2 linked regions of the Homo sapiens genome follow. Changing the gene in region 1 together with any one later gene gives a genetic interaction. Each region holds a gene or a part of one and is shown on either strand. Other genes may lie near its edges.

Evidence for each region. Genes that interact genetically often act in the same process or in processes that back each other up.
Region 2: changes in REV3L (region 1) and RFXAP impair growth when combined (synthetic growth defect), as found in Homo sapiens cells (one large-scale study listed by BioGRID).

Annotation. Positions count from the first base shown.
Region 1 is NC_000006.12:111,375,124-111,378,776, reverse strand, and holds part of REV3L (DNA polymerase zeta catalytic subunit), read left to right. Parts: intron 1-933; coding exon 934-1,076; intron 1,077-2,019; coding exon 2,020-3,653. UniProt on the Homo sapiens protein: Catalytic subunit of the DNA polymerase zeta complex, an error-prone polymerase specialized in translesion DNA synthesis (TLS). Lacks an intrinsic 3'-5' exonuclease activity and thus has no proofreading function.
Region 2 is NC_000013.11:36,817,708-36,821,460, forward strand, and holds the start of RFXAP (regulatory factor X-associated protein), read left to right. Parts: upstream 1-1,514; 5' UTR 1,515-1,650; coding exon 1,651-2,250; intron 2,251-3,753. UniProt on the Homo sapiens protein: Part of the RFX complex that binds to the X-box of MHC II promoters.

The DNA.
Region 1 (3,653 bases):
ATCATGTGGAAAATGACATCAACCTGCTCTGTATAGCTACAGAGAACAAAATAGGAATCATGTATGGAAGTTGAAAGAGTTTGTGTATTACAAGAAGACAACTATGAATAATTAAAGCCATTAACAGTGGAAAGATTGCCCTGTGAGACAGCAAGCCCCTTATACAGATTATGTAAAAACAGAGATTGTGTCAGGTTCGTTAAAAATGAGGTTTTCGCATTGGGTAGAAAGTTGGACTGGACCTCTGATACCTCTTTCAGCTCTTAAGGGAGTGATTTTTATGATAAATTGTGATTTGGAAAGGCTTAATGGAAAAACAGTTCCAGTATAATAAGTATAATAAAATAATAATAATTTCAAATTGTTGAGATTAGTGAAAGAAAAAATTGGGTATGGATAGGAAAAAAGTTTGCCCATTCAATTAAAAGGGAAAACATCAAGTTAATACCAATATGAGATGAAACTTAAAGACTGGACTTCACTGTCCATCTGAATTTCTCAGTAACCCTTTGTAGTTATTGTCAGGTTGACTGAACACCTTTACTACTTCCTATTACCCTCTCTCTTCTTCAGCATTTTCTCTTCAGCCCTGACCTCAATGCCCCTTCACTCATCTTTTTATTCTTGTTTCTTCCAATTCAGAATGCAGGAATTGTGGTGTATTTTAGCTCACATGAAAGGGATTATGAAGTCTAATTATAATAACTCTTTGTAAGTTACTATAGTAAGACATGTTAATAAAGCAAAGTAAATATGCTTTTCTAGAAGTTACAATTTTCAGATTTTTTGTATTGTTTTACTATAGAGTAACTTAGATACATTATTATAGTTAACTTAGATACATTATTATAGAGTTAACTTAGATGCATTATTTGCATCTGAGATGGTCTTTACTAATGATCATGCTCACCAGTGAATTTTAATGTTCTCCAGATCACTGTGCAGAAATACCCACAGAAGTTCAACTGAAGATGATGACTCATCTTCAGGAGAAGAAATGGAATGGAGTGATAACAGTTTGCTTCTAGCCAGTCTTTCTATACCTCAGTTAGATGGAACTGCAGATGAAAATAGTGGTAAGTAAACAAGTCTACTGTGAGAAATTGGTTATTCACGATCTAAAAATGTATTTGATTTTGAGGCTAGGCGCTCTGGCTCACACCTGTAATCCCAGCATTCTGGGAGTCCAAGGTGAGAGGATCACTTGAATTCAGGAGTTCGAGACCAGCCTAGGCAACGTAGTGGGACCCCCGTCTCTAAAAAACTAAAAAAATTAGCCCAGCATAGTGATACATGCCTGTAGTCCCAGCTACTCAGGAGGCTGAGGTGGGAGGCTTACTTGAGCCCAAGGGTTTGAGGCTGCAGTGAGCTGTGATTGCTCCATGGCATTCCAGCCTAGGCAACAGAACAAGATTCTGCCTCCAAAAAAAATAATAAATAAATAAATATGATTTTGAAACTTTAATCATACTTTCTATTGATTTTGAAACTGTAATCATACTTTCTATATAGTTGGCTAAGGGAGGCTATAGTGATGTTTCGTCCTTCAGGATTTTTTTCTTTTGAAAGAATTAGATACATGATTTGCTTCTCATTTCTAAAAGGATATAACATTTGTTGACCACTGAATTCAAGCTTTGAAAACTTTAATGTTTGTTGTGCAAGTAGAATAATAAACTGAAAAATATGCTCAGTTTATTTGAAGTGATAATGTAAAGCATATTATTTTATGAACATTTTTAAAGTGACAGTATTTTTCCCTTATGCCCCAAAGGAACTAAATAGTAATATAATCTATTTCTGATCAATGGAATATTTGTTTAAAATGATGACTAATAATTGTAACTAACTATATTTAGATTGAGTCATTAATGATAAGCATTACCTTTTTGTTAAGATAACCAAACTTAATTTGATGTAATTTTTTCATAGTGATAGCATTAATATCTTGGTGTGGGAAAATGTCTTAAAAATTAAAAGAGTAAAATGAAATAAACTGTTTTTCCCTCCTCATTTCAGACAATCCATTGAACAATGAAAATTCTAGAACCCACTCTTCTGTAATTGCAACAAGCAAGCTTTCAGTTAAACCCTCCATCTTTCACAAAGATGCTGCTACATTAGAACCCTCATCTTCTGCTAAGATTACCTTTCAGTGTAAACACACAAGTGCCCTTTCTTCCCATGTTTTGAACAAGGAAGATTTAATTGAAGACCTTTCACAGACAAACAAAAATACAGAAAAAGGTCTAGATAACTCAGTCACTTCTTTTACAAACGAAAGCACTTATTCTATGAAATACCCTGGATCTTTAAGCAGTACTGTTCATTCAGAAAATTCTCATAAAGAGAATAGTAAGAAAGAGATCCTCCCAGTATCTTCCTGTGAAAGTAGTATTTTTGATTATGAAGAAGATATTCCATCTGTTACAAGACAAGTACCAAGTAGAAAATATACAAACATTAGAAAAATCGAAAAGGATTCCCCTTTTATACATATGCACCGTCACCCTAACGAGAATACATTGGGCAAAAATTCTTTCAACTTTTCTGACTTAAATCATTCAAAAAATAAAGTATCCTCTGAAGGAAATGAAAAAGGAAACAGCACAGCTCTGAGTAGTTTATTCCCTTCATCATTTACTGAAAATTGTGAATTACTGTCATGCTCAGGGGAGAATAGAACTATGGTGCATTCTCTTAATAGCACTGCTGATGAAAGTGGACTAAATAAACTTAAAATTAGGTATGAAGAATTTCAAGAACATAAAACAGAAAAGCCAAGCCTCAGCCAGCAAGCAGCACACTATATGTTTTTTCCCAGTGTTGTTCTTTCTAACTGTCTTACTAGACCACAGAAACTATCTCCTGTCACATATAAATTACAACCTGGCAATAAACCATCCCGGTTAAAATTGAATAAAAGGAAACTTGCAGGTCATCAGGAGACTTCTACCAAAAGTAGTGAGACTGGATCCACAAAAGATAATTTTATACAAAATAATCCTTGTAATAGTAATCCTGAGAAGGATAATGCATTGGCTAGTGATTTAACTAAAACCACTCGTGGAGCTTTTGAAAATAAAACACCCACAGATGGTTTTATAGACTGTCACTTTGGAGATGGAACGTTAGAAACTGAGCAGTCCTTTGGACTATATGGAAATAAATACACACTTAGAGCCAAACGCAAGGTAAATTATGAGACTGAAGACAGTGAGTCAAGTTTTGTAACTCACAACTCAAAAATTAGTCTACCTCATCCCATGGAAATTGGTGAAAGTTTAGATGGAACTCTCAAATCCCGAAAACGAAGAAAAATGTCTAAAAAGCTGCCCCCTGTCATCATAAAGTATATTATTATTAATAGATTTAGAGGGAGAAAAAATATGCTTGTGAAGCTAGGAAAAATAGACTCTAAAGAAAAACAAGTAATATTAACAGAAGAAAAAATGGAACTATATAAAAAGCTTGCACCTTTGAAGGACTTTTGGCCAAAAGTTCCCGACTCCCCTGCAACCAAATATCCCATTTATCCACTAACACCAAAGAAAAGTCACAGAAGAAAGTCAAAACATAAATCTGCTAAGAAAAAAACTGGTAAACAACAAAGGACAAATAATGAAAATATTAAAAGAACTTTGTCTTTCAGG
Region 2 (3,753 bases), on another chromosome or scaffold:
TGAGCCTCCCAAAGCGCTGGGATTACAGGTGGGAGCCACTGAGCCTGGCCTTAAATTTAATCTTCATTAACATTTTCACTGTCACTTTCTTAAGTGCAGAGACAATCAGCAATAAGTGTAAACCTGCTTCGTAGCATTTGATCATTTCCCTGGTGTAAATACTCCAAAAGTGGCTGATTTCAAGCAATCAACATGACATACTGAAGGCAGAGTTGGGAAAATGTGCAGTAACACACCACTAAATAATATTTCCGCATACAGATACAATAGACATAAATAACCTTAAAAGCACAGATAATGATAAAACATAATAAAATAATTAGAAAATGAAGAGTTTTGAGATTTGTACCCTTTGTTTTTAATATAATCTTATTGTAAGTTTATGTAGTAAGACTTTTAATAATAGCAGTGTTTAATTTTTCTGCTAATTATATTCCTGAAATTTTAGCAACCAGTTACCATCAGTTGGCGCTAGCACACCACCGACTGCAGGCTTTACTGATGAGGAAACTGAGGCTCGGAGAGGCTGTCACGAACTTGCTGTAGTCACACAGGAAGTACTACCTAGGTTGCTCTAATTCCAAACCTTCTCCCTTCCATATGCCTCTCTTTAAAACATAACTGATCTACCTATATGTCAGCACCCAAACATCTTAGTGTGAATGGATTTATAGTTTGTTGAATAAAGTCATTGCTTTCCGGTAGGTGGGATGGGAAATCTGACTAGGCGAAAGAATAGGATGAAGGGAAAAAGAACATCTACTTAACAGTTCAGGATACGGCAGGATATTTTCTCTCCTGGGATTTGGGCAAGCCAAGATTTAACAACCAGCAATTGCCCAGCAACTGATAGAACTGGTAGAACATTCATTGTTTTTTTAAACGTTTGCCATTCAGTATTCCTTTTCACACATTTTCACTGTGTTAAACGAAAACGTTAAGACTTATCTCAGCAGCCACAGCAAAGAGCAAGTACTAACAATCAAGTGAGTTTCCAGGAGAAAAAAAACAAAGTTATCCCTCAATGCAAATACAACTCGGCCAAAGGTGTGGCCCATCCCTCTCCGCTCCACTATTTTCAAATAAGCCACCTCTGCCTTCATGGACTGCGAGCTAGTGACTCTAGGCTGTGACACCACTGCATCCCAGCTTCAAATCTCCCCTTGCAGGCAGTTTGTGGGGGAAATAATAAAATTAGCATCCTAACACTACAAGTCGTGAGACCGCTCAGGAACAATCCTAATTTGCATACTGGAACTCCTGTAGAAGATACTTTGAACCGCTTTAGATACAATAGGATCAGGTAAAACGGCGCTGCCTTGCCAGCCACTGCAGGTTTTCACCTGACACAGCCCCCAGACCCTGTCTACGAATCCCCCAGCTGGCCGAAGGGGCCGCGGCCGCACATGCGCAGTCAGTCCCGTTGGTTGTGCGCTCAGCCCCGCCCCCAGAGGCGCCGCGCTCCCTGACAGCCCGCGGGCGTACACACGCTGACGCGCAGGCTGCGGTCGCGCAGGCGCAGTCGGGGCGCCTTCCCGGTATAGGCGCCTTTTACCCCAGCGTGTCCTGAGTCTTTGGTTCGCGAAGTGCCGTTAGGCCAAGCAGGTGCTAAAAGCCCGGGGTCGTGGACCCCGGCCAGGTCTTAGCAGCATGGAGGCGCAGGGTGTAGCGGAGGGCGCGGGGCCGGGCGCCGCCAGCGGCGTGCCCCACCCCGCGGCCCTAGCCCCGGCTGCGGCTCCCACCTTGGCGCCAGCCTCGGTGGCGGCCGCGGCCTCTCAATTCACCCTGCTAGTGATGCAACCCTGTGCTGGGCAGGACGAGGCTGCGGCCCCCGGGGGCAGCGTTGGGGCGGGCAAGCCCGTTAGGTACCTGTGCGAAGGGGCCGGGGATGGCGAAGAGGAGGCTGGGGAGGACGAGGCGGACCTGTTAGACACTTCGGACCCTCCGGGGGGAGGCGAGAGCGCGGCTAGTTTGGAGGATCTAGAGGACGAGGAGACTCACTCGGGGGGCGAGGGCAGCAGCGGGGGCGCCCGGAGGCGGGGCAGCGGTGGGGGCAGCATGAGCAAGACCTGCACCTACGAAGGCTGCAGCGAGACCACGAGCCAGGTGGCCAAGCAGCGCAAACCGTGGATGTGCAAGAAACACCGCAACAAGATGTACAAGGACAAGTATAAAAAGAAGAAGAGCGACCAGGCCCTGAACTGCGGTGGGACTGCCTCGACTGGCAGCGCGGGAAACGTCAAACTCGAGGTATCAGACTTAGCTGAGGCCTGGGGATGGGAGGTGGAAGAAGAAACCCGATCTTAACGCAAACCGCATCTGCAGGGCCTGCCTCCCCACTTCCAAATGGGCCGGTTTGCAGTGACTGGGTTAGTGGTTGAGAATTAGAGTGTTTGCCCTAAATTAAAGTTTATACCAACATGTGCAAAGCAATAACAGTTCTGTTGAACTCATGATAGGTGCAGAAATTTCAGTAAAAATAATGTGACATCGGCAGAGCTGTCATAGATCTGGGATATGGCTGGAAGGACATAGAGTAAATGATCGGTCTGGTTCATCGCTAAAGGAGACTTAGGAACCTAGATGAAGTTGGTACTTCTGAGAAAGTCATCTCTTTCTGTTTTCACTACTCTATTCTCAGTATCCAGTTCTCAGTACCCAGTTCTCAGTACCTCTATTTGTAATACTCCTGTATTTAGTACTTTGTTTTTAGTGTCCTGTTCTGTTAACCCTCTTCCTAGTACCGTATTTTTAGTACTGCTATACTCAGTTGCCTGTCTGTAGTACCCCTGTACGTAGTACTCTTTTCTTACAACTCTGTTCCCAGTACCCCTATGTTTAGTCCCTTGTTCTCATGTTCTCACTACCCCAATACTTAATATACTTTGTTCTCAGTATCCTTGTTGTTAGTACCCTGTTCTCACTACCCCTTTTCTTAGTACCCCTGAGGGGGGAAAAAAAGGATGATAATGGGGTATAAGTCTCAAAAAACTTTTGGATTGTTTGATTTGAACTGAGTCAAAGGTAAAACCAGTGTTCTGGAGTTCGACTTCTGGGTGCAAATCCCTGTTGCATCATTTACTGGCCTTGTGGCTTGAATAGGTTATTAAACTCTGTAAAATGGGCATTAAAATCGTGTGTCATTCATAGTGTTGCTGTGAATATGTGAGCCATTCCATATTGAGGGTTCACACAGTGTCCAGCAACTGGCTAAAGTTTGCAAACCTTACCCATTATTATTGTCATTGTTAGTGGTATACTTTGAGGCTGTCACAAATAAGCAGATATTTCTTCTTGTGAGAGCTATATAATCCCTTAGTGTAGAGAAAAATTTAATTTTGTTACAAGTGATCCAAGCCAGGTATGGTGGCAAGTGCCTGTATACCCAGCTGTACTTGGGAGGGTGAAGTGGGAAGATTGCTTGAGACCAGGGGTTCGAGGCTGCCGTGAGCCTTGTTTGCATCACTGCATTCCAGCCTGGATGACATAGCAAGACCCTGTCTCCTTAAAAAAAAAAAAAAAAAAAAAAAAAAAATTTTTTTTAACTGCAAGCTGTCTTAGGGTCCTAGGATGTATTCTAAGTCTTTAAATTTCTTAGTTTCAGGCTGAACTTGAAGTGCTCCATCACTAAAATATTAGACCTTGTAATTGTTTACAAATGTAATGTTCTAGGCCAGGCTCAGTGGCTAATACCTGTAAGCCCAGAACTTGGGGAGGCCTAGGAGGGAGGATCGCTTGAGCCCGGAAGTTTGA